Linked DNA regions of Homo sapiens: all the other regions are linked to region 1. The links come from fine-mapping of genetic effects on gene expression. A gene starts in region 1. Each other region holds a variant in brackets. All regions are shown on one strand. Distances are between the middles of the regions.

Region 1 (8,182 bases):
TCCAGGGGAGAAGCCCAGTATCTGCTGGAAATAGGGAACCTTAGAGTTGCCCCACCAGCAGAGTCCCCTGAGAGCCTCCCTTAGAGCTGCTGAGAGGCTAGCTGGGGACCAGGGACTCGGTATGGACTCATGGGCTGTTTTCTCTTGGCTTGAAAAAAAAATCTCTCCACATGATCTGGCCTCCTCTTATCATATCTGGATGACCTAGCACCTGATGTGAGTCCTGAGGCAGTGGCGCGGCTGGGCTGCGCTCAGGGTTCAGCATTAAATCTTAGGGGAGATTTAGATGAGATTCCAGAAAAGGGAAAATTAACCTCTAGTGACAGGAAGCAGATCAGTGATTGTCTGGGGCTGGGATGGGGTGGAGAATTGACTGCAAGAGGTGGGAGGAAACTTTTTGGGGTGATGGGGATGTTCTAGATTTTGATTGTCATAATGGTTACACAGGTGTGCACATTTGTCAGCCTTCATTTAATTGTTAACTTATTATTGATGCATTGTTAATTTAAAAAAACAAATCTTAGAACAGATTGGTAGCAAGTGCCATGTTCAACAAATGGTCAGGCAGGCACCAGTTTGCTTAATTCTGAGGACTCCTGTTCAGCCACAACAAAGAACATGTAAGCCATGCAGATTCATGGAAGACCAAAAATGAAGTAATACGGCACAAAAAAGAAGGAACTCAGGGTGGAAATTCACAGTGAAGACAACAGCTCTCTAGGGCTCAGGTCTGCTCTGTGCAGAGAGGGAGCTCACCCCCTGGGAAGAGGCCTTCCTTGCTCTTGGTTGGCCTGGATGTTTTGAGCAGCTGGGACAATATCCTGCAGAAAGTAGAAGGAATAATCACGAGGGGAAATGGGGCCCTGCTAACATGTGAGTAATAAAAGGGGGAGACAAAATCCAGATGGAAAGCTGATCCTGTCTTTACTTAAAATTCTGATATTTTATTCACCTTGGACTTTTCCCGTTAATGCAGATTTTAAAAATATTTCATTAAAACATGATTTATCTTGATTATTTGGGCACGCTCTTAAATTGTGCAGCCTGGGCAAGTGCCTCACTTGATCACTGATGTCCAGCCCCAAGGGAAAAGCAGGAAGAGAGAACCAGCCTCTAGTCCACAGAACTCAATGGCGATCAACCTCTGCAGGCCTGGAGTGGGGAGAGGCACGGCTAGGACCACAGCCTGGAGGGACCCAGGACGGCCCTGGAAGGCTAAGTGGGGGCGGAAGAGACCTGCCTGGGGCTGCAGCTGGGAAGACTGCTGGGCTTGGGGGGTGGGGCAGTACAGACCATAGGAGCGTTAGGTGTGCTGGGCCCAGGGGTGGCTCCTGGTGACTCACCCCCTTGAGGGTGGACCCAGTGTCTCCCCTCTGCCACACTGAGTCTTTAAGTATGTAGTTGGTTTCCTGGCTGCCCTCAGGCCTGGAGGGAAACCCACCTATTGTGCCAAGAGTGGTGGAGAAGCTCAGAAGCGGGGTGCAAAGTGGGGAAGGGTAGGCAAGGGCTCCAAGCAGGGAGTTGGGAGGTGATTCAGGGGTGAAGCTGCTGATAGGCTCAGGAGGGAGGAACATGGGCCCGAGGTGGGAACTCCAAGGAAGATAACAAGGCTGGGAATAGAAGGCCCAGAGCTCTGTTTCCCAGGCTGGAGCCTCAGGAAGGAGTTCCCAAGGCACTGGGGTAGTGGTAGCTAGAACAGCCATGGAAGCAGAGAGCTAGGAGTTTAGTCTCAAAACAGTAGTGAGATTTTCTCACACCTCACTCTCCTGGACAGCTGCCAGGAGATGTGTGCTTGTTTGCATGGCTGACATTTTTCTGTAAAACTCCCTTCACTCCACATGGAAATGACCCAGGTAGGAAATGACCAGGGTACAAATGGGCCTGATGGCTGGCCTACACTCTCCCTGGGGCGTTGAGGGAGCAGAAGGTGGGTCCCAGGTGCTGCCAATAGCCTCTGGGTGTGGAGTAGCCAGAGGTGGGCAGGTGTCTTTCCAGAAGGCAACCAGGGAGCTGAAGGGAGAAAGCCAGGGACCAAGGCCAGAGAGAAGGAGGCAAAGGAAAGGGTGGGAGTCAGAGAGAGCCTGGGATTGTACAGTCAGGAGGACAGCAAAGGAGGCCGGGAGGAGGGGGAAGGAAAGGGCCAGGCCAGGGTCAGTGGGGAAGTCAAAAGCGGTGCAGGCCTCTAAGTCCAGCTCTGTGGGGGAAGCATCCAGGTCTTGTGCTGCCGCAGCGCCTTCACTCTGAAAATAGGAAAACCACCAGCTAGGAATTTCATTCCTCAGTGTCCCCCCGCCACCCGCCCCAACACATCAACTGTGTGTTCTCCCAGGGCAGGGCCCCTGCCTTTCTGTTCTTTGCCCACCACTCTCACTCCCCAGCAGCCACCGTGGGCCTGGTGCTGAGCAGTCAATCCTTGCTGAACTGAACTGCCCTTGGTGGGGATGTCACACGGGTCAGACTGCTTTGTCAGCGAGGACTCTGGGACAGGCCAACTTGTGTCTCTGATGCAAACCAAGGAAAAGAGCAAGAGGTGAAACTGATGTTCCTTCCCAGCCTTCCCAGTGCCCTGTGCCCCGTGCCAGGCACTTCCTCTGGTTCTATGTGTTCTCATTTTCCCGATGGTGAACCTGTCAGGCCTTGCGAGTTCCCCTCAGAGTTAGGGTTCTCATTCCCCCGAACTCGCCCAGACCCCCAAGCCTGAGCTCTTTCCCTAGGTTGGTGGGACCTTCAGGGAAGGAGGCTGAGGGTGCCCTTCGGAGACCAGTGGCCTGCCTGGGGGATGAAGTGGAGGCCCTCGGATCTGGCCTGGGCGTGCCAGGGCTCAGTGGCAGCCAGAGAGGGGCTGGGCTCCTCCCTGGGAGAGAGGGAAGAGGAGCAGCTGAGGACAGGAGGTGGGTATCTTCTCAGGAGGATGGATGGGAGGGGCCCCTTTGTCATGGTGGGCTGGTGGATGGGGCAGGAAGGGGATGTGGCCTGTGGCTGAATTCTGCTCTCTTTGAAAGCCAGGGAAGTGGCTCCCACAATAAGCCAAGATGAGAGAACTCTAGGGTCCCTGCCTGGGCCCTCCAGAGTTCTCTCCTCCAGCCTCTTGCCTCTGGGTTAGATTTCCCTCAAGACACCCTAAGCTGGGGCACAGTTTCCACTGTGAGCTAGAAGTTTCCGTTTTCTTGAATGTAAATGGGGGGCGATAGTAGTCACTTCCTTTCAGTTTTTGCTCAAATATGTCACCACAGAGAGCCCTCTCTGACCATCCTGTTCCCAACTGCCAGGACTCTGCCTCCCCTACCTTCTGGATCCTTTCGCTGCTTTGTTTTTGTGAACGGCACTTTTCACTTTCTAGGAGGCTGTGTAACTGATTTATTGATTTTTGTCTGCTTTTTCCCCCCAACCCGCAAATACTAGAGCCACAGGGCAGGAGGCTTTGCCTATTTTGTTCCTGTGTCCCCAGCACCTAAAGCAATGCCAGGCACTCAATACATATTTGTTGAATGAACACGTGAAGGATGCGTGTGAAGTGTTTCGCAGGATTCTTGGCATCTTAAGATTATTGCTGCTGCTGTTGTTTGCTGTGTGACTTGAGCACATTCCTTAGCCTCTCTGGCCCTCTGTCTCGCAGTCTGTAAAATGAAAAGAGTGAACCACTAAAGATCCATGAGCTTCTTTCAAACTCTAAAAATCTTGGTGCCTCTGAATGCTCAAGAAAGTTCTTCCCAAACCTCAACAGGAACTCCTTTTTCTTTTTTTTTTTTTTGCAGTTCTCAGCAGCAGCTCAGCTGGAACTTAGCCGGAGGTGCTAAGGACTCCTTTTGCAATAGCCCTTCCTTTACTTCTTTTGACTCTGAGGATCAGAATAGGGTATAGGTTTGGGATCACGAGTCAGCCCAATGTTTCTTGGAACAGTTTCCATTCAGATAGTTATGTTTTATTTCATTGACTTTGATGTGTTGCTTCTGGCACTTTATTGTTTTCAATAGAGGGCAATTCATGATGTGCATAATTAAAGGTCATTTGATTTTCATTTCTTTGTTAAGAGTTTCATAAAAACAAACAGAGTTCAGGAGAAAGCAATTGCCAGACCATGCGCCCAGAGACCATGTGCCCTGATTTGGGATTTGGACACCTGGTCCTTGGAGATGAAGGTTCCCACTGTCCTGCCATAGGTGGGGCTCTGCCCCTGGCCTGGAACGTCCCCTGTGGGGATAGGGTCATCCCTCAGAAGGCTCTGGAGCATCTGTTTCAGGGGCTCAGGTCAACAGGACCAAGACCATCCTCTCAAGGCTCTGCCCTTTCTCTCAGGGCCCCTCTGAAGAAGTAGCTCAGAACACTCCTCTGCTTCTGTGGGGGCAGTTTCATGAGTAAAGGCAGCTTCAGGTTCCCGGTATTTGGAATTTGGTATTCGCTGAGTAACTGGGATGGCCTCGATGAGGGGCAGAGGAACAGGTCTGGCTAGTTCTGTGTTGTTTATACTGGGGATTACTTCACACGTCCCAACCGGCTTCCCCGCCCCATTTGGTGGGGGCTGGCCCTTGGCCCTCCAACTCCTTTACCCTACATGCCTGAGAAGCCAGGGACCAAGATGGATCTTCTCCTCGACATCAGCTAAGCCTGGAGGACTCTTCCCCTCAGAGACCATGGAGAGGGACAGCCACGGGGTGAGTGTGACCTCAGGCCTCGGGCCAGATTCTCCCAGCGCTGAGGAAGCAGGGCTGAGGCTGGGAGACAGGTGGGACAGCTACCTCTGTGTTTCAGGTTTGGGGGAAACTGGCTGTGCCTCTTCTAGTTTGAAGCTACTTACGATCAAGATCTCTTGGTCTCCTTTTAACGTGGTTCTAGAAAAAGCCCCTGGGAGGAGAAGCTGCTGGGATTTGGGGTCTGGCTGGTGAGCACCCCAGGGCTATGTGGCTGAGTCGTGGGTTTCCTGCTCTGTGGTCTGTGAGCACTCCTGCCGGGCATCCATAGTGTTACAGCACCAACTTTGCCGATTGGGAATCCAGGCTAATCTACTTTAATCTCATTTTTGCTGGTTGGAAAATCAAAAGCATTCTAACTGCAATTCAGGGGCATCTTGTCTAAACCCCTCACTACACTCCTAAACCTTCCCAGAAAACTGTGACTTTCTGGGTGCATTCAAGATTTTCAAGGGGATGTTTCAACCTCCGTTGGTCACTTCTTTTTGGACTTAATAACTTTCATGCTTGGGAAGTGCTTCTTGATGTTTAACCACAAGTCCTGCTACCACTCAACTTCCTTTCTTCTGCTGCTCTTGGGGTAGGAGAAAGCAGCTGGCCTGTCCTCTGTGGGAAAGCCAGTCATACACACATGAAGGCTTCCAAAGATCTTGTTCTGCTGTGCCTCCACTTTCTTTTCCTCCAGGAAATCCCTTTTGTGCTCTCATTTCTCCTTTAGGTCTTGTTTTCTGCCCCCTCCAAATTCTCTGTACCTTACCGACATGGTAGAGCCTGGGACTCTGGGAAGAATGGGCTAGCACTGGGTTTGGGAAAGATCAGCTCATCCTATGTTTTGGCTTATAGTTGGCTTGTGGTCCATTCTGCACCCCCAATGTGTTTCTGCAAACTTTACCATCATTTTTTTCCCACCATTCTTCCAGCCCCCTCTTGACTTTTCTTTCCCAGGCTGCCTCCCTTGCCCTCTGCTCTGGGCTCCTTCGTTCATGTCTCTACCTCACCAAAGTCACTTGGCCCTAGGCCTTGGGGGGTTATCAGAGCCTCTTACTGTTGAGCAGTAAGGGGGGTACACAAGGGCATGCAGAAGGTGAACCCTTAGTCACAGCCATGGGGCATCCTCCTTGGCAATATGCTGGGAGCCTAAACTAGATGGTCCCTAAACCCAAGAGTGAGAAGGGCTGAGCTATCCGGAGGGTGGCCATGCTCCCACTGGAGATGGATAGTCCATCCCTGAGACAGGGTGATGGGGCGATATCTTCCCAGGAAGCTCATCTCTTCAGAGTCAGGGATCAACATGAAGGCTGCTGGAGGGATACAGGACAGAGAACAGACTTCTTTGAGGAACTCCCAATTAATCTATGAATTAAGTGTCAAATATTATGATAGGTGCCATATTCATTCTGAAAAAAAGATTGTCCAAACTTACCTTGGAATGGAAGAATGGAATCATTACATTCTTATTTAAGGTTCTTAACTTCACTCCCCTATTTAAGATGGAACTCTGAGAGAGTGAGCCTATAGTTGGGGCTCGTATTCCCATCTGCAGCAGGTTTCTTAACCTTGATTAAATAGGAGTGGTCTGGGAGAAGCTGGTCACCTGAGCTTGTGCCTTCTCCTTGAGGGCTTTATTGCAGAGAGATGCATTGTGATTTCTGTCCCTCAACTCCAAAATGTCGTGAGGAAGATGGTGGCCAGTGGGCTTGAGCCTGATGGCACTCCTCTGTCAGCTGCTGGATCTTCAGAGGGATCTTGGAAAAGAGGTGGAGAAGGGTCTCAGTTTCTCATATTCAAAAGAAAGTTGCATGTCGTGGTGGACAGAGAACTGACCATGTTCCCCGTCAGCTTTGGGCAAGCCACTTCACCTTTCTGTACCTTAGTTTCTTCATCTGTAAAATGGAATAATAATACTACTCTCAAAAGAAGAATGTTGGACAAACTAAATTTAACAGAGTTTAATTGAGCAAAGAACAATTCTCAAATGGAGCAGTCCCCCGAAGGAGAATAGATTCAGAGAGATTCCCACACAGCTGCGTGGTCGGAGAGGATTTATGGACAGAAAAAGGCAAGCAGTGTATGGAAAAAGGAAGTGAGGTACAGAAATAGCCTTATTTGAACACTGTTTGAACAGTTGGCTGCCTTTGATTGTGCAAAATTGGTGATTGTTAACAAGAGTAGTTTACAGTCTGTTTACACGTCCAGTTGAGTTATAGTTCATTATGTACAGAGAAACCTTTTGATCCGAACTTAAAATATGTAAGGAGGCAGCTTTAGGCTAAGCTTAATTTAATAATACCTACCTCAAGGAGTCTCAAAATAGTGTCCTTCCCATAGTAAGGCTCATTTAGAATAGCATCTGGCATAGAGAGATAGAGATAGATAGATAGAGATGGAGTCAGAGAATGTTGAAATTTATCATCACTGCCTAGAATTTGGGGTGGGCTCCTATAAATTTGGACAAACATCTTCTTCTACCTGTGCCTCAGCTTCCCCACCAAAGAAGAGGGTTGGACACATTCCCCCCTGAGGCTCCTTTCTGGCTCCCTGACAGTCTGGAATTACATAGAACGGGGATGACAGGTGCGCCACACCAGATTTGTTCTTGACAATGCGTATTTTGTGCTTTTTCAATTCTCATTTTTAATTCTCAGAGCAGTGCAATGCTTATTAAAGAAAGACTGAATTAGACCCATTGATGAAGCAACATTCCTTTGTGGAGTGGATTTTCTTATACTGGGCCTTCTTCAAGTGGAACAGGTTCCAAATTAGCCCAAGGCCACAGGTGCTAGGGATTGGTGAGAACCGTCTGGGGGCCCACCGCTGGTCCAGGATAAGGCACCCTTTCCAGAGGAGCTGGGCAGTTCCTGAGATGGCTCACCCGCGGGTCAAGTCACTCTGCCATGCCGTGTCCCAGCCCCATCCCAGCCCCAGGCACCCCAAGGACCCTGGCACCTGCCCTATGCCCCTGCAGGTGTGTAGCCCTCACCTCGTCCTCCAAGGACCCTGGCACCTGCCCTATGCCTCTGCAGGTGTGCATCCCTCACCTCGTCCTCCAAGGACCCTGGCACCTGCCCTATGCCCCTGCAGGTGTGTAGCCCTCACCTCGTCCTCCAAGGACCCTGGCACCTGCCCTATGCCTCTGCAGGTGTGCATCCCTCACCTCGTCCTCCAAGGACCCTGGCACCTGCCCTATGCCCCTGCAGGTGTGCAGCCTTCACCTCGTCCTCCAAGGACCCTGGTACCTGCCCTGTGCCCCTGCAGGTGTGCAGCCCTCACCTTGTCCTCTGTTTCATGTTGTCATTGGTGAGGAGCAGACTTCCTTTGGCACAGCCACCTCGATTTCCCCTGCATTGTCCCCTGAGACTTGGCAGATGTGAGCGTAAGCGTGCGGGAGTGTGTGTATTGGGCCCTGGGCTGGGGAGCTGGGTGGGAAGGACAACTGATGTAACAATGGCCACTTAGCTTAAGTGTCTTGTTTTGGCAGAACAGATTCCTCTTGG
Region 2 (8,182 bases), 29 kb before region 1:
ATTTAATTCCACTGTGGTCAGAGAACATATTTTGTATGACTTAAATCCTTCGGAACTTATTTAGATTTATTTTATGACCCAGAATATGGTCAGTCTTGGTAAATGCTTTGTGTATACTTGAAAAGATGGTGTATTCTGCCGTTGTTAGATGGAATGTTCTATAAATGTCAATCCAGTCAAATTGATTGATAGTACTATTCAAATGTACTATGTTCTCATTTATTTTCTACTTATTCTACCACTTATTGAGAGAAGTATATTGAAATCTCTGACAGTAATTGTCAATTTGTCTGTTTGTCCTTGCAACTCTAGCAACTTTTACTGTCTATATTTTAAAGGTGCATAAACACTTTAGAATTGTGTCCTCTTGATTAATTGATCCCTTTATAACTATAAAATGACCTTCTCTAGCTCTGATAATATCCTTTGCTCTAAAACCTACCTTGTCTGATAGTAACACAGTAACTCCAGTTTTCTCTTGACTAGTGTTAGTGTGGTTTACACTATCCTATCCTTTTACTTTTAACATGTAGTACCTTTATATTTAAAATAAATATTTTCCTTCCTTCCTTCCTTCTTTCCTTCCTTCCTTCCTTCCTTCCACCCTTCCTTCCTTTCTCTCTCTCTCTCTTTCTCTCTTTCTTTCGGTGGAGTCTCACTCTGTCGCCCAGGCTGGAGCACAGTGGCGCCATCTTGGCTCACTACAACCTCCGCCTTCTGGATTCAAGTGATTCTCCCGCCTCAACCTCCCAAGAAGCTGGTACTATAGGCGCAGGCCAGGGCCACCAAGCCTGGCTAATTTTTGTGTATTTAGTAGAGACAGGGTTTCACCATGTTGGCCAGGCTGCTCTCAAACTCCTGACCTCAGAAGACCCGCCCACCTCGGCCCCCCAAAGTGCTGGAATTACAGGCATGAGCCACGGTGTCCTTGTTGCTAATTTCCTGTTGGCAGCATAGAGTTGCATCTTGCTTTTTGGGTTGGGTTTAGGTCTATCGTCTTGCTATTTCTTTTCTCTTTGTCTCATCTGTTCTGTCTTCCTTTCCCATTTTTTCTGCCTTCTTTGGAGTATTTTAAAATCTCTTTTGTTGGCTTATTAGCTATAACTCTTGGCTGTTGGGGATCTTTTTTAATGGTTGCTTTTGGGTTTATGGCATACATCTTTAAGTTATCACAGCCTACTTCAACTGATATTATAGTCCTTTATGCCTAGTAGAAGAATTCTACAATAGCATACTTTCATTTTTATCCTTTTTAGCCTTTGTGCTGTTTTTATCATGCATTTTGCTATTACAAATATTCTAAACCCCACAATACGTTGTAACTGTTTTTGGTTTAACAGTCCCTTATCTTTGAAAGAGATTTAAATAATTTTTAAAAATTCATATATTTACCTATGTAGTCACTACCATTTCCAGTATTCTTTATTTATTTGTGTCACCCCAGGTTTCCATCTGGTATTCTTTTCCTTCTGCCTGAAGAATTTCCTTTTACTTTTTTTATGGTGTGGTTCCGCTGGTGGAAATTCTCTCAGCCTTTTTTTTTTTTTTTTTTTTTTTTGAGACGGAGTCTGGCTCTGCCACCCAGGCTGGAGTGCAGTGGTGCGATCTCGGCTCACTGCAAGCTCCGCCTCCCGGGTTCACGCCATTCTCCTGCCTCAGCCTCCTGAGTAGCTGGGACTACAGGCACCCGCCACCACGCCCGGCTAATTTTTTGTATTTTCAGTAGAGACGGGGTTTCACCGTGTTAGCCAGGATGGTCTGGATCTCCTGACCTCATGATCCGCCCGCCTCGGCCTTCTCTCAGCTTTTTTATGTCTGAAGATGTCTTTATTTTTGAGAGATGTTTTTGACGGGCATGGAATTCTAGATGGACTGTTTTCTCCTTCAAGTGCTTTGAAGATGTTGTTCCAGTCTTCTTGCTTCCATTGTTTCTGATGAGAAATCCGTATCTTAATTCTTCCTCTGTATGTAACATGTCTTTCTCTAGCTGCTTTTAAGATTTTCTCTTTAACATTGGTTTTTAGTAAATTGATTATAATCTGCCTCACTATAGTTTTCTGCATATTTTTGTGCTTTGGGGTTTGTTTTATTGTTTGCTTATTTGTTTGTTTGTTTGGTTGGTTTCTTGGACCTGTGGGTTTACAGTTTTCATTAAGTTTGAAAACTTTTTGGCTCTTATCCTTTCATATTTTTCTGTTTCCTCTCTCATTTGCTTTAGGGACTCTTTTAGGGAATCCAATATTAGGCTACTCGAAGTTGACTCACAGCTCACTGACACTATTTTCTTTTTCCTTTTCATTTTTGATGATTTTTTCCCCTGTGTTTCATTTTCTGAACTGCTGAGCAGTTTCTATTGCTAAGATTTCAAGCTCACTTAACTTCTGCAATGTCTACTCTGCTCTTAATCCAATCTGGTATATTTTTCATTTCTGGCATTGTAGTTTTCATCTGTAAATTAGAATTACATCTTTAAAAATATTCTTCCATGTCTGTACTTAGCTTTTTGAACATATGAAATACAGTTATAATAGCTGTTTTAACATCCTTCTCTGCTAATTCTAATATCTGTGTCAGTTCTGGGTTGGTTTCAATTGATTGATTATTTTGTCATTATGGGTCTTGTTTTCCTCTTTCTTTGTATGCCTGGTAATCTGTGGATATATGTTAAACATTGTAAATTTTACCTTGTTGGGTACTTGATATTGTGGTATTCCTGTAATTATTCTTGAACTATGTTTTGGGATGCAGCTAAGTATCTTGGAAACAGTTTGATCCTTTATGTCTTGCTTTTGTGATTTGTTAGGTAAATTTAAAGTACTGTTTAGCCTAGGGCTAGTTACTTCCCCCTACTGAGGCAAGATCATCCTGAATCCTCCACCTAATTCCCTGTGAATTGTAAGTTTCTCTAGTCTGTACAGTGGGAACAGGCACTATTCTCAATTCTGTTTGCATACCAGGTACTGTTCTCTCTCATTCTTTCAGAAGCTTCTTTGCCTGGCCTCAGATAGTTTTTTCTTATGAGTACAATCATCAGTATTCTGCTGAACACTTGAAGGAAACCCTCTTTAGATATCTGAAGTTCCCTTTCTGTTCATCTCTCTCCTCTGGTATTCTGTCCTATTAACCCCACCCACATAGGGGTTGAGTTCCCCCACTGACCTCCACCCCCACCCATGCTATGGCCTGGAAATTCTCTCAAGGCAATTCGTTGGGGGCAATCATATGGCTCTACTTATTTGTTTTCTGTCTCTAAGGGTCCCTGACTTTTTTTTGCCTGATGTTCAAAGTCTCAAAAACTATTGTTTCATACATTTTGTCCATTTGGGGAGGGCATGTTTCTGGTGGGAGGATAAATGCAGTTCCTGTAACTTCATCTTGGCCAGAAGAGGAAGTCCTTACTTTCATTTTTGAAATATATTTTTGCTGATTATAGACTTCTAGGTTGGAAGTTATTTTCCATTAGCACTTTATTTATTTTTATTTTTATTTTTTATGGGTACATAATAGGTGCATATATTTATGGGGTCTGAGATATTTTGATATAGCATGCAATGTGTAATAATCACATCGGGGTAAATGGTGTATTCATCACCTCGAGCATTATCCTTTGTGTTACAAAAAATCCAATCATACACTTTTAGTTATTTTAAAATGTACAATTAAATTATTATTGACTATAGTCACCCTGTTGTGATAGCAAATACTAGGTCTTATTCATTCTCTCTA[ACTAT/T]TTTTTTGTACCCATTAACCATCTGCACTCCTTCCCAACTCCACCCTTACTATCTTTCCCAGCCTCTGGTAAACATCCTTCTACTCTTATCTTCATGAGTTCAATTGTTTTAATTTTTGGCTCCCACAAGTAAGTGAAAACATGCAAAGTTTGTCTTTTTTGTGCATGGCTTATTTCACTTAATGACCTCTAGTCCTATCTATGTTGTTGTAGATAATAGGATCACATTCTTTTTTATGGCTGAATAGGACCCCGTTGTGTATATGCACCATATTTTCTTTACCCATTCATCTGCTGGTGAACACTCAGGTTGCCTCCAAATCTTGACTATTGTGAATAGTGCTACAGTAAACATGGGACTGCAGATATCTCTTTAAAATACTGATTTCCCTTCGGTTGAGTATGTACCCAGCAGTGAGATTGCTGAATTGCATGGCAACTCTATTTTTAGTTTTTTGAGGCACCTCTAAACTGTTTTCCAACACCAACAGTGTTGTCCAATATCAACAGTGCACAAAGGTTTCCTTTCTCCACACCCTTGCCAGCATTTGTTGTTGCCTGTCTTTTGGATAAAAGTCATTTTAACTGGAGTGAGATGATATCCCACTGTAGTTCTGATTTGCATTTCTCTGATGAACAATGATGTTGAGCACCTTCTCATATACCTGTTTTCCATTTGTATGTCTTCTTTTGAGAAATGTCTATTCAGAACTTTTGCCCGTTGTTACATTGGATTATTAGATTTTTTCTTACAGAGTTGTTTGAGCTCCTGATGTATTCTGGTTATTAATCCCTTATCAGATGGGTACTTTGCAAACATTTTCTTCCATGCTATTGGTTGTCACTTCACTTTGTTGATTGTTTTCTTTGCTGTGCAGAAGCTTTCTAACTTGATTTGATCCCATTTGTCCAATTTTGCTTTGGTTGTCTGTGCTTGCAGGGTATTACTCAAGATACCTTTGCCTACTCGAATGTCCTGGAGAGTTTCCCCAATGTTTTCTTGTAGTAGTGTCATAGTTTGAGGTCTTAGATTTAAGTTTTTAATCCATTTTGATTTGATGTTTGTGTATGGCAAGAGATAGGCATCTAGTTTCATTCTTCTGCATATGAATATCCAGTTTTTCCAGCACCATTTATTGAAGAGACTGTCCATTCCCCAATATATATTGTGATGGTTAATACTGAGTATCCACTTCATTGGATTGAAGGATGTGAAGTATTGTTCCTGGGTGTGTCTGTGAGCATGTTGCCAAAGGAGGTTAACATTTGAGTTAGTGGACTGGGAGAGGCAGACCCACCCTCAGTCTGGGTGGGTACCGTCTAATCAACAGCCAGTGTGGCTGGAATAAAGCAGGCAGGAGAAGATGCAAGAGCAGACTTGCTGAGTCTTCCAGTTTCCATCTTTCTCCCTTGCTGGATGCTTCCTGCCCTCGACCATCAGACTTCAGGTTATTCAGATTTTGGACTCTTGGACTCACACCATTGGTTTGCCAGGGGCTCTCGGACCTTTGGCCACAGACTAGACTGCACCATTGGCTTCCCTACTTTTGAGGTTTTGGGACTCAGACTGTCTTTCTTGCTCCTCAGCTTGCAGACGGCCTACTGTGGGACTTCACCTTGTGATCATGTGTGTCTATGCTCCTTAATCAACTCCCCTTCATATATACATCTATCCTGTTAGTTCTGTTCCTCTAGAGAACCCTGGCTAATACATACATTCTTGACATCTTCTTTGAAAATGAGTTCTCTATATGTATTGATTCTTTTTTCTGTCTTCTCTATTCTGTTCCATTGGTTTATGTGTCTGCTTTTATGCCAGTACCATGCTGTTTTGGTTATTATAGTTCTGTAGTATAACTTGAAGTCTGGTAATGTGATTCCTCCAGTTTTATTCTTTTTGCTCAGGATAGCTTTCGCTATTCCAGGTCTTTTGTGGTTCCATATAAATTTTAGGATTATTTTTTCCATTTCTGTGAAGAATGTCATAGGTATTTTGATAGAGATTGCATTTAATCTGTAGATTGCTTTGGGTACTATGGACATTTTAACAATACTGATGTTTCCAATCCATGAACATACACTATCTTTCCCCCCCGCTTTTTTTTGGTGTCCTCTTCAATTTTTTGCATCAGTGTTTTATAGTTTTCATTATAGAGAACTTTCACTTCTTTAAGTTAATTCCTAGGTATTTTATTTTATTTGTAGCTATTGTAAATGGGATTACTTTCTTGGTTTCTTTTTCAGGTTGCTTACCTTTGGCATATAGAAATGCTACTGATTTTTGTATGTTGATTTTGTATCCTGCAACTTTACTGAATTTATTTATCCATTCTAATAGTTTTGGTGGAGTCTTTAGGTTTTTCCAAATAAAAGATCATATTATCTGAAAACAAGGATAATTTGACTTCATTCTTTCCAATTTGGATGCCCTTTGTTTCTTTCTCTTGTCTTATTGCTCTAGCTAGGACTTCCAGTAGTATGTTAAATAATAGTGGTAAAAGTGGGCTTCCTTGTCATGTTCCAGATCTTAGAAGAAAGGCTTTCACTTGTTTCCCATTCAGTATGATATTGGCTGTGGATCTGTTACATATGTCTGTCAGCACTTTAAAGATATCATTCCACTGTCTGCTGGCTCCTATTGTTTCTGTTAAAACGTATATTAAGTTTCTAGGGCTTCTGTAACAAAGTGCCACTTGGGCCTCTCTAGAGGAACAGTCTTGGGCCTTTGGCTTAAACAACAGAAATTTATTTTCTCATAGTTCTAAAGTCCAAGGTCAAGGTGTTGGCAGGGTTGGTTTCTTCTGTGACTTCTCTCTTTGGCTATAGATGACCATCTTCTCCCTCCGTCTTCACACGATCTTCCCTCTGTGCAAGTTTGGGTCCAAATCTCCTCTTCTTATAGGGACACTAGTCATACTGAATTAGGGCCCACTTTAATGACCTCATTTTAACTTAATTACCTCTGACAAGACACAGTCTCCAAATATAGCCACATTCTGAGGTACGGGGGTTAGGATTTCAACATATGAATTTGGTAGGGGGTGGGAGATACACAGTTCAACCCATAACAAAAAGTCAGTCATCTTATTTTTGTTCTTTTAAGATTATTTATCTTTTTCTTCCTGGCTTTTTTTTAAAGATTTTATATTTGACTTTATCTTCAGCAGTTTTACTGTGATGTGCCAAGGGGTGTTTCTCTTTGCATTTTTCCCACTTGGAGTTTGTTAAGCTTCGTACAAATTGCACTCAGTCACTCATCGATTATTTGGAATTCTCTTGTGTTCAATGGCAGCTTTGTCTGTGCCCCATTCCTTGGATTTTGCACACTCTGGTTCCCTACAGCTGGCTCCTTGACTCTCCCACTTTGAAGGTTCATCCCCTTTTAAGTACTCTAGGGATAGGCAACACTAACAAACCCTAGCATTTGGAAGCACTCCCATCTTCTAAACAATGGGATTTTGCAATGATTTCTTATTTAAAATAAAATACGCTTTTCTTCATTTAAAAAGGGTGCACTTTATTAAATAAAATTTGGAAGTGCAGAGAGTTTACAAGAAGGAAAAATAAATCATTCATAGTCCCATGACATAACCACTGCTGCTAGTTTTTGTTTGTTGTTTTTTGAGATAGGGTCTCTCTATGTTTCCCAGGCTGGACTTGAACTCCTGAGCTCAAGTGATCCTCCTGCCTCAGCCTCCCAAGTAGCTGAAATTATAGACATGTTCTGCTGCTAGTATATTGATGTATTTTCTCCTTGTCTTTGTTTTAGACATAGATTAAGCTGTTTTTTAAAAATACAGTTTTATTCATGCCAGAAGTATAATTTTGAATTTGCCTTTTATATTTTATATTCTGTCATTGTATTTTTCTATATTATCAAAGGGTGGCTCGTATTTATTGAAAACTAAAAGTTGAACATTGTATTAATGTATTTTTTAGTAATTATCTTACTTAATCCTCACAAGTATAATATGAAGTAGATACTATCATTATCCTTACTTTACAGGCAGAAAGTTGAGGCTTAGACAGGTTAAACAATTTGTTTAGGAATTGGTAGAGCTGGTATTTCCAACCCAGATCCATTTGAGTTCAAAATACAGGCTTTTGACCACATTCTATACCACAGTAATTAAAAAAATTGTGACACAATTACATACAGTAAAATCCACAGATCCTAAATGTATAATTTGGTGACTCCTGACAAATGTATGTACCACACAACCACTTTTACTGTCTGCATAATTCTTCTCTGGGTCTTATTTGTGTTTTAATTTTGTTTTGACAGAGTCTTACTCCATTAGTCAGGCTGGAGTGCAGTGGCGCTATCTCAGCTCACTGCAAGCTCCACCTCCCAAGTTCAAGCGATTTTTGTGCCTCAGCCTCCTGAGAAGCTGGAATTATAGGCGCATGCCACCACACCTGGCTAATTTTTGTATTTTTAGTAGAGACGGG
Region 3 (8,182 bases), 45 kb before region 1:
CCCTGGAACCGGTCCCTTTGGCTCTATTAGCTGTTGGCAAGATTGGAATCTGGGCTGTTGTAAAGCCAGACACAAAGTGTTCTGGTAACTGATAATGGCTTCTCAAGTGAGAGTGAGAGGTGACAGCCTGCTGGCAGTCCTCAGAGCCCTCGCTTGCTCTCGGCACCTCCCCTGCCTGGGCTCCCACTTTGGCGGCATTTGAGGAGCCCTTCAGCCCCCCCACTGCACTGTGGGAGCCCCTTTCTGGGTTGGCCAAGGCTGGAGCCCACTCCCTCAGCTTGCAGGGAGGTGTGGAGGGAGAGGCTCCAGCGGCAACCGGGGCTGCGTGCGGCGCTTGCGGGCCAGCTGGAGTTCCGGGTGGGCGTGGGCTTGGCGGGCCCCGCACTCGGAACAGCCAGCCAGCCCTGCTGGCCCCGGGCAATGAGGGACTTAGCACCCGGGCCAGTGGCTGCGGAGGGTGTACTGGGTCCCCCAGCAGTGCCGGCCCACCGGCGCTGTGCTCGATTTCTTGCCGGGCCTTAGCTGCCTTCCCGCGGGGCAGGGCTCGGGACCTGCAGCCCGCCATGCCTGAGCCACCCACCCACTCCATGGGCTCCTCTGAGGCCCGAGCCTCCCCGTGGAGCACCACCCCCTGCTCCAAGGCGCCCAGTCCCATCGACCACCCAAGGGCTGAGGAATGCGAGCGCACGGCGCAGGACTGGCAGGCAGCTCCACCTGAAGCCCCGGTGCGGGATCCATTAGGTGAAGCCAGCTGGGCTCCTGAGTCTGGTGGGGACGCGGAGAGTCTTTATGTTTAGCTCAAGGTTTGTAAACACACCAATCAGCACCCCTGTGTTTAGCTCAAGGTTTGTGAGTGCACCAATCGACACTCTGTATCTAGCTGCTCTGGTGGGGCCTTGGAGAACCTTTGTGTCCATACTCTGTATCTAACTAATCTGATGGGGACGTGAAGAACATTTGTATCTAGCTCAGGGATTGTAAATTTACCAATCAGCACCCTGTCAAAACAGGCCACTTGGCTCTACCCATCAGCAGGATGTGGGTGGGGCCAGATAAGAGAATAAAAGCAGGCTGCCCGAGCCAGCGTTGGCAACCCGCTCGGGTCCCCTTCCACCCTGTGGAAGCTTTGTTCTTTCGCTCTTTGCAATAAGTCTTGCTACTGCTGACTCTTTGGGTCCGCGCTGCTTTTATGAGCTGTAACACCGCGAAGATCTGCAGCTTCACTCCTGAGCCCAGTGAGACCACAAGCCCACCAGGAGGAACGAACAACTCCAGATGCGCTGCCTTAAGAGCTGTAACACTCTCCGCAAAGCTCTGCAGCTTCACTCCTGAGCCAGCGAGACCACGAACCCATCAGAAGGAAGAAACTCCGAACACATCTGAGCATCAAAAGGGACAGACTCCAGACGCGCCACCTTAAAAGCTGTAACACTCACCGCGAGGGTCCGCAGCTTCATTCTTGAAGTCAGTGAGACCAAGAACCCACCAATTCCGGACACAAGAGGGAGTGAGGTCTGTAGAAACATTCAGCAAAAAGCACGCTGACTAGAGGGATCTAGCCCCTTTCTTTCATGGCCTGGATGTGTTTGGCCTCACTCTGGGTTGTATGTTGTGCTGAGGCCCACCACACCATCTTGGGACAACTGGGCCTTTGGTTGTACTTGGGACACCTCCCTCCCCCAGAATTATTTTAAGAAAATCACCTCGTCAGGAAGGCTGTGGACCTGGTCCATGAACTTAGTCCATTGTCATTGCTTTGTGAACTTGGGATGCAAGAAGTGAAGAACAGAACATTGACAGAAATATCTCGTGTCATTTCAAGACACAGTCGTGTCTTCCTTCTGCAGCCCAGATGGCCTTGACTTCTCCAGTTTTTAAGGGTGTCATTTCCCCTTAATTCTAAAATAACAACAGTTTGAACTCCCATCCCACAAATGCAGGAAGTCCATCTGCTCTTGGGTTTCCAATCCCAGAGCCATCCTAGAGGGCTTGCACCTCACCTCTGAGCGTCTCACGGTGGTGGCCTCTGAGCTGCAGCTGTTTGTTTGAAGTACGGACACAGGCCCAGCATCTTTGAAAAAATGCTATTGGAAGCTCTCAAATAACAAAAGTACCAAAGAGATAGTCTGTTACAACTGCTCAAAGCAGTAGTTTCAGAGCACCCACCAGTTCAGCTGCATTTTGCAAACCCTCCTTAAGCTTCTGGCAATGTTGGTGGCAGGGAGAGGCCAGTGAACTTCTTGCCTTTGGAAGTCTCTAGGCCTCTCTGAACACCCTCCTTGCCCATAAAGAGAGCAGAGGCCTTCCTCTTCCTGCCCAAAGACCACCTTGTTTTGTTTTGTTTTTAACTTTTTGCCTCAAGATGATTCACAGCAAGAACATCAATATCTTTCAAGAGAAATTCCTAGACCTATCCTGAAGGTACAACCTGGCTCCAATGGCTCACATAGGGCTAGTTGCCTTAAGCCTGCCTTGGCCTTAAATAACCCTGCAGGTGGGCCAGCAGCCGTGTGGCCCAGATAATGACAAATCAGGCCCAATCCAGGGCCTTACCTCGGTCATTCCTGCCCGGAAGGGAAGAGACTTGGTCTGCCTGCTCTTCCTGCGGTTGTCTGGGCTCCTGCCCTGCAGTGAACAATGACTGGACAAAGGATAATGATTTTCAGCCATGGGACAGCCTAAATTGAGACTTTGGGAAACAAATTCTGTAATTCCTCAGGGGCATGGTTCTGCTAAGGAGATACTCCACTGACATTGCTAAATGAAACCAGTAACACTTCAGTCTGAGGACTCTGTCTCGGACCCATCACAGATGTCTAGGATGTCTTCCAGAACAATGGGTATGCATGTACTTTATATTGACAAGACTAAGAAGGTTCACCCAATACAGGGAGACTCCCATGTGAAGACAAATCCTAATCACTCCTCTGTCATGCAGAAATGTCTTGTAAATCCTTGAATTACAGCTCCTTTGCTTCAAGGATTTAAAGCTCTATATTCTCCCCTGTCTCTGGCAGCAGCCCGAGTGCTCAATGGGAAGACCTAAGCCTGAGGTTCAAGCCCCAGGTCTGTCAGTTGCCATCCGTGACTTTGGGTAAGTCATGAATTCCCCAGGTCTCGGATTTCTTAGCTAAAAAACGAGGATAATACCACTTCTTCCAACCTGTCAGGGTTGTTGAGAGGATGAATGCAAGCAAACATTTGTTAAGTACACTTGCCTAGGCATGGTAGGATCCAAAAATTAGTAAGACACTGGCCTTATCAGACTCATGCGCTTTTAGGGTGTTTAGACTTCAATAGGTAACTTCATTATGATATGAGAAGAAACAGCTTAGATCTAAAGTGTTCTGTAAACTCTAAAGTGTTATATACTTGTGGATATTAGTACTGCTGTCATTTTTCCTATAAATTGGGTTTCCTTTCTGTTCACTGCTGGGCCAAACATGTCTTGAGCAGCTCACAGTGGGAAGCCTCTTCTCCCTGTCCCCCAGGCTCCAGGGGGTCTCCCTGCCCCCCATGGAACCCTAGAATCCTTTCAGGGGGCTCCTGTCATCTACCTACATGTTTCCATTCCACCACTCTTCCCAGGACACACTGGAAGTACAGTCTTTCCTCTTTCACATAATTAATGACAAATGTAAGAAATGGTGGGCTGGGCGTGGTGGCTCACGCCTGTAACCCCAGCACTTTGGGAGACCGAGGCAGGCAAATCACGAGGTCAGGAGATGGAGACCATCCTGGCTAATATAGTGAAATCCCATCTCTACCAAAAATACAAAAAAAAATAATTAGCTAGGCGTGGTGGCGTGCACCTGTAGTCTCAGCTATTTGGGAGGCTGAGGCAGGAGAATGGCGTGAACCCGGGAGGCGGAGCTTGCAGTGAGCTGAGATCGCGCCACTGCACTCCAGCCTGGGCGACAGAGCGAGACTCTCTGTCTCAAAAAAAAAAAAAAAAAAAATAGAAATGGTGGCCAGGTGCCTGGCTCACGCCTGTAATCCCAGCACTTTGGGAGGCTGAGGCAGGTGGAGCACGAGGTCAGGAGATCAAGACCATCCTGGCTAACACAATGAAACCCCGTCTCTACTAAAAATACAAAAAATTAGCCGGGCGTGGTGGTGGGCACCTGTAGTCCCAGTTATTCGGGAGGCTGAGGAAGGAGAATGGTGTGAACCCGGGAGGCAGAGCTTGCAGTGAGCGGAGATCGCTCCACTGCACTCCAGCCTGGGTGACAGAGCGAGACTCCGTCTCAAAAAAAAAAAAAAGAAAAGAAAAGAAATGGTAACTGGAGGCCAGCCAGGGATGACAAATGGTGAGCA[T/C]GTACAAGTGCCCAGCAGAGGATGTGTGGGAGTGGGGCATGAAAAGAGAAGCTCTGCAGTCCTAAGGAGTTGTGAAGTTTTATAATTTATAAGAAAACGAAAGTCAGAGAGGAAGAGCTATCTCAAGAGCATAGCGGGTTCATACCTCGCCCCCACATTCATTCTGTGGCGATCTGACCTTTTGGGACAGAAGAACAAGACAGGTGATGTTCTTCTCACCTCCTTTTCCAAACTCTTTTAAACAGGCCAACATTTGGGTGATATTGGTGGGGGAGGTCCTGCTGGTATCTCTGATAGTCCGCAGCCAACCCCCTTTCTGTCTTCACTAACCTGTCCCTCTGTCCTACCCCAGCCTCTCTTTTCAGGACACCCCAAAATTCCAGTGGAAAATTACCAGGACCATGAAAAAAATTAGCATTTCTTCTGAGCATTCTTTGAGTTCTTGTATATGGTGAGGTCATCTTCACATTTTTAAAAATTTTAAACTAGCCAGGTGCGGTGGCTCACACCTGTGATCCCACTTTGGGAGGCCAAGGCGGGTGGATCATATGAGGTCAGGAGTTCAAGACCAGCCTGACCAACATCGTGAAACCCCGTATCTACTAATTACAAAAAAAAAAAAAATTAGCTGGGCATGGTGGCACATGCCTGTAATCGCAGCTACTTAAGAGGCTGAGGCAGGAGAATTGCTTGAACCCAGGAGGCGGAGATTGTAGTGAGCTGAGATTGCGCCATTGCACTCCAGCCTGGGCAACGAGTGAAACTCTGTCTCAAAAAAAATTTTTTTTAACTTTAATTAATAAATGTGTTCAAAACCCATACAAGTTATTTAAGTAAATACGTATTCAGAAATATACACAGTTTTGATCAACACTTGGTGCACAGTATGAAGTTTCAAAGAGGTGACTCATGTTTATTGTTGCACATTGTAGAAATAAATTCTCAGCCTAATGTTGGAAAGCTGAAGTAAATAGATGCTGAGATTCATGAAATTCTGGTAAGCAGTCACTACGTGTGTCTATACGTATACATTAACAGAAGGGTTTCCTTGTGATTACTGGGTGCTCACCCATCCACTGGTCCCAGGAGAGGCCTCCTGTCCACCCACAAAGCGAGATACTTATGGCGGTTGGTCACAGCCTCTTGCTATTACACCACTTTCTTAAGCCCCAGACTCAAGATTACTTCCCCCTCTCCACTCAATTCTTCTCCCTAGGCCAACTGTGGTCACCACATACTAAAGCATAAGTCAGTTGCACAGTTCTTCTGAGATCCCAATTTGGTGACAAAGTTCATAACTGCCACACCTTCTTCTTGGGTCAGTAGCTCAAATCTGCAAACATTCATTGAGTAGTCCCTGTGTCAGGCACTGTGCTAAGCACCTGGGGACAAAAACAGAAAGGATACTATGTTTGTCTTGGAGGATGTTTAGTTAGAAAGAGTGGGGGAAAGGAAATCTAAGGTTTATTGTTGTGCTGGGCAATTTGCTACTATGTACTTCCTCTGATTCTATGTGAGATAGGTCTTCTCTTCCCACTTTACAGAGGAGGAAACTGAGTCTTAGAAAGGTTATATGCTTTTCCCAAGGTAACTCCATAAGTGGTACAGCTGGCTTGTAAGCCCAGGTCTGACTCTAACTATTCCTGTTGACTGCTCCTGCCAGCCCCACGCACACCAGCCACAGACAAAAAGCAGTAAGTGGGACAATTCCAGCAGTAGGTCCAGTTGGAAGGCTGCCAGGGAAAGAACCAACTTTGGGGACTACTGGCAGGTGTTTGGGTGCTGCCAATTCCCCCTGTGGGAGGCTCACAGCCCAAGGCAGCCAGGGGTGGGGTCTGTGGGAATGAAAATTACTAGAAAGTGTAAGAAATGCCTTGACAGGGTTTGCATTTGGCACAGAGGATCTGCAGAAGACGTGGCTGGGCTGGTGGCTTCTGAAGCAGAGACTTTATCATCCCGCTCCCATCTGCTCACCCCAGCGCCTCCATCTTCCTGGAGAAATGCCCTCTGAGAGTGTTTATTCTTCAATAGCTGTTGATTTCCTGCCACATACCAGGCTTCATTCGAGGCAGACAAAGCAAACAAAACTCCTGCCACATGGAGTGTTCATTGCAGCAGGAGGAGACGGACACCAAGAGTCAATACATGAGAGAAATGTGTAGCATGTCAGACAGTGATACGCGCCACCGAGAACAATAAAGTAAGAAAGGGGTTTAGGGAGTAGGGAGGGAGGGCTGCCTTTTTGTTTTCCTTTTTTCCTTTTCCCTCCCCCACCTCCATTTTTTTTCCTTTTTTTCTTTAGGTTTTTATAGAGACAGGGTCTCCCTATGTTGCCCGAACTGGTCTTGAACTCCTGAGCTCAAGCGATCCACCTGCCTCAGCCTCCCAAAATGTTGAGATTACAGGCGTGAGCCACTGCGCCTGGCCTCCACCTCCATTTTAAATAGAGTGGGCAGCAGGCCTCCCCCAGTAGGTGACATTAGAATGAGGACCCAAGGGATGTGAGGAATGAACCGTGTGGATATCTGAACGAAGGGTGTTGTGGGCAAAGGGAACAGCAAGTGCCAGGCCTCCAGGTAAGGGCGTGCCCGGCCGGTGTGGGAGGGGTTGGCGCCCAGTGAGTGAGGCCCACCTAAGTGAGGGATGGCTCCTTCATGGGGCTCATGGCTACTGGCTGACAGACAGAGAGACAGACAGGGAACTCGAGAACTCTCAGCCTCCCCCACTTGTGGAGAACATTCCCTGGAGGAGAGTCGAGAGAGGCATGGACATAGGGCTCTTCTTCCTGCAGCTTCTGAGTAAATTATGATCCCCCTGCACACTCGGGCTTTAGCCCTCCTTACACTCACCCTCTCCTCTCTTTCTTCTTGATCCCCTTTTCTTTTTTCCTTTTAAAATTATTTCAGATTATTCTAGATTATTCCATCCCCCATAAATCTGACGTGCTTAGACACGGAGAAGGCAGGAGGGTTTTGGGGGTCAGGGTGAGGAGGGTTTTGGAGGTCAGGTGTATTTGTTTCCCAAGGCTATATCAAATTATCACACACTGGGTGGCTTAAGATGACGGAATGAATTCTCTCCTGGTTCTGGAGGGTCTGAAATCAGTTTCATTGGGCTGCAATCAAGGTACTGGCAGGGCTGGAATTTTCTAGGAAGGAATGTGTTCCTTGCCTCTTTTGGCTCCTGGTGGCTAGCCTTCGTGTGTGCGTGTGTGTGTGTGTGAGAGTGAAATCTTTCCCTGCCTCTTTTTTATACCAAAAATTTCTTAAGAGCTCCAATGCAATTGCATTTAGGGCTCACTTTGATCATCTAGGATAACCTCCCCATCTCAAGACCCAATATACAAAGACACTGTTCCCATATAAAGTAACACTCACAGGTTCAAGGGATTAGGTCTGGATATCTTTTGGGGGCCATTTTCATCCTACCACAGAGAGTGTTCCAGTTTCAACATTCATCTCTATATTCATTCAGTCATTCCCTATTCGACACAGGGTCACTGGCTATTTCCTCAGTGCAAGGCAGTGTGCAGGATGCTGGGAATACACGGTGAGCAAAGGAGAGCCCCCCAGGAGCTTGCGGTTTAGAAGGAGAGATGGATGTGAATCAAATAGTCACTCAAATAAAACGCAGAGTTGCGACTGTGGTAAGTGCCATGAGAGCCTGTATTTGGGGTTTTACCTGGTAAGGAGGCCAAGAAAGCTTCCAGGAGGAAGTACCCTTAAATCTGCATGAGTTGGGGTAACCTTCCCTTCAAAGAGGGAAGGAAGAGACTTCCAGGTGGAGGGGACAGATGGCAGAACGGAGGTATGGCTGGCTCTGGCAGGTTGTGCAGGGCTTGGGGTGGCCTGGGGTGGCGGGTGGG

Direction of the effects. Alleles are on the strand shown, and positions count from the first base shown. SD is a standard deviation of normalised expression in the study named. Not every link is listed here.
For the expression in monocytes after R848 of the gene that starts at base 4,537 in region 1, C is the high allele of the variant in region 3 and T is the other (small effect, 0.31 SD a copy in Quach 2016).

Evidence for each region. PIP is the estimated chance that this variant, and not a neighbour inherited with it, causes the effect. A credible set is the group of variants that fine-mapping cannot tell apart.
Region 2: its variant is the best candidate, but not a certain one, in a credible set for the expression of TMPRSS13 in whole blood (TOPMed, PIP 0.71).
Region 3: its variant is the best candidate, but not a certain one, in a credible set for the expression of TMPRSS13 in monocytes after R848 (Quach 2016, PIP 0.89).

What each region holds. Positions count from the first base shown.
Region 1 is chr11:117,925,757-117,933,938 of GRCh38, reverse strand. It overlaps TMPRSS13 (transmembrane serine protease 13), which reads left to right and starts at 4,537. Exons shown (of 13, transcript NM_001077263.3): 1 at 4,537-4,652. The coding sequence starts at 4,632. RefSeq lists enhancers at 776-1,314, 1,547-1,676, 1,315-1,854.
Region 2 is chr11:117,954,741-117,962,922 of GRCh38, reverse strand. No RefSeq gene overlaps it. Among named protein-coding and RNA genes, the nearest start is that of IL10RA, 28 kb to the left of the region's middle. The variant ACTAT/T (reference allele first, on the strand shown) is at 3,727.
Region 3 is chr11:117,970,985-117,979,166 of GRCh38, reverse strand. No RefSeq gene overlaps it. Among named protein-coding and RNA genes, the nearest start is that of IL10RA, 11 kb to the left of the region's middle. RefSeq lists an enhancer at 1,669-1,838 and a silencer at 5,935-6,349. The variant T/C (reference allele first, on the strand shown) is at 4,318.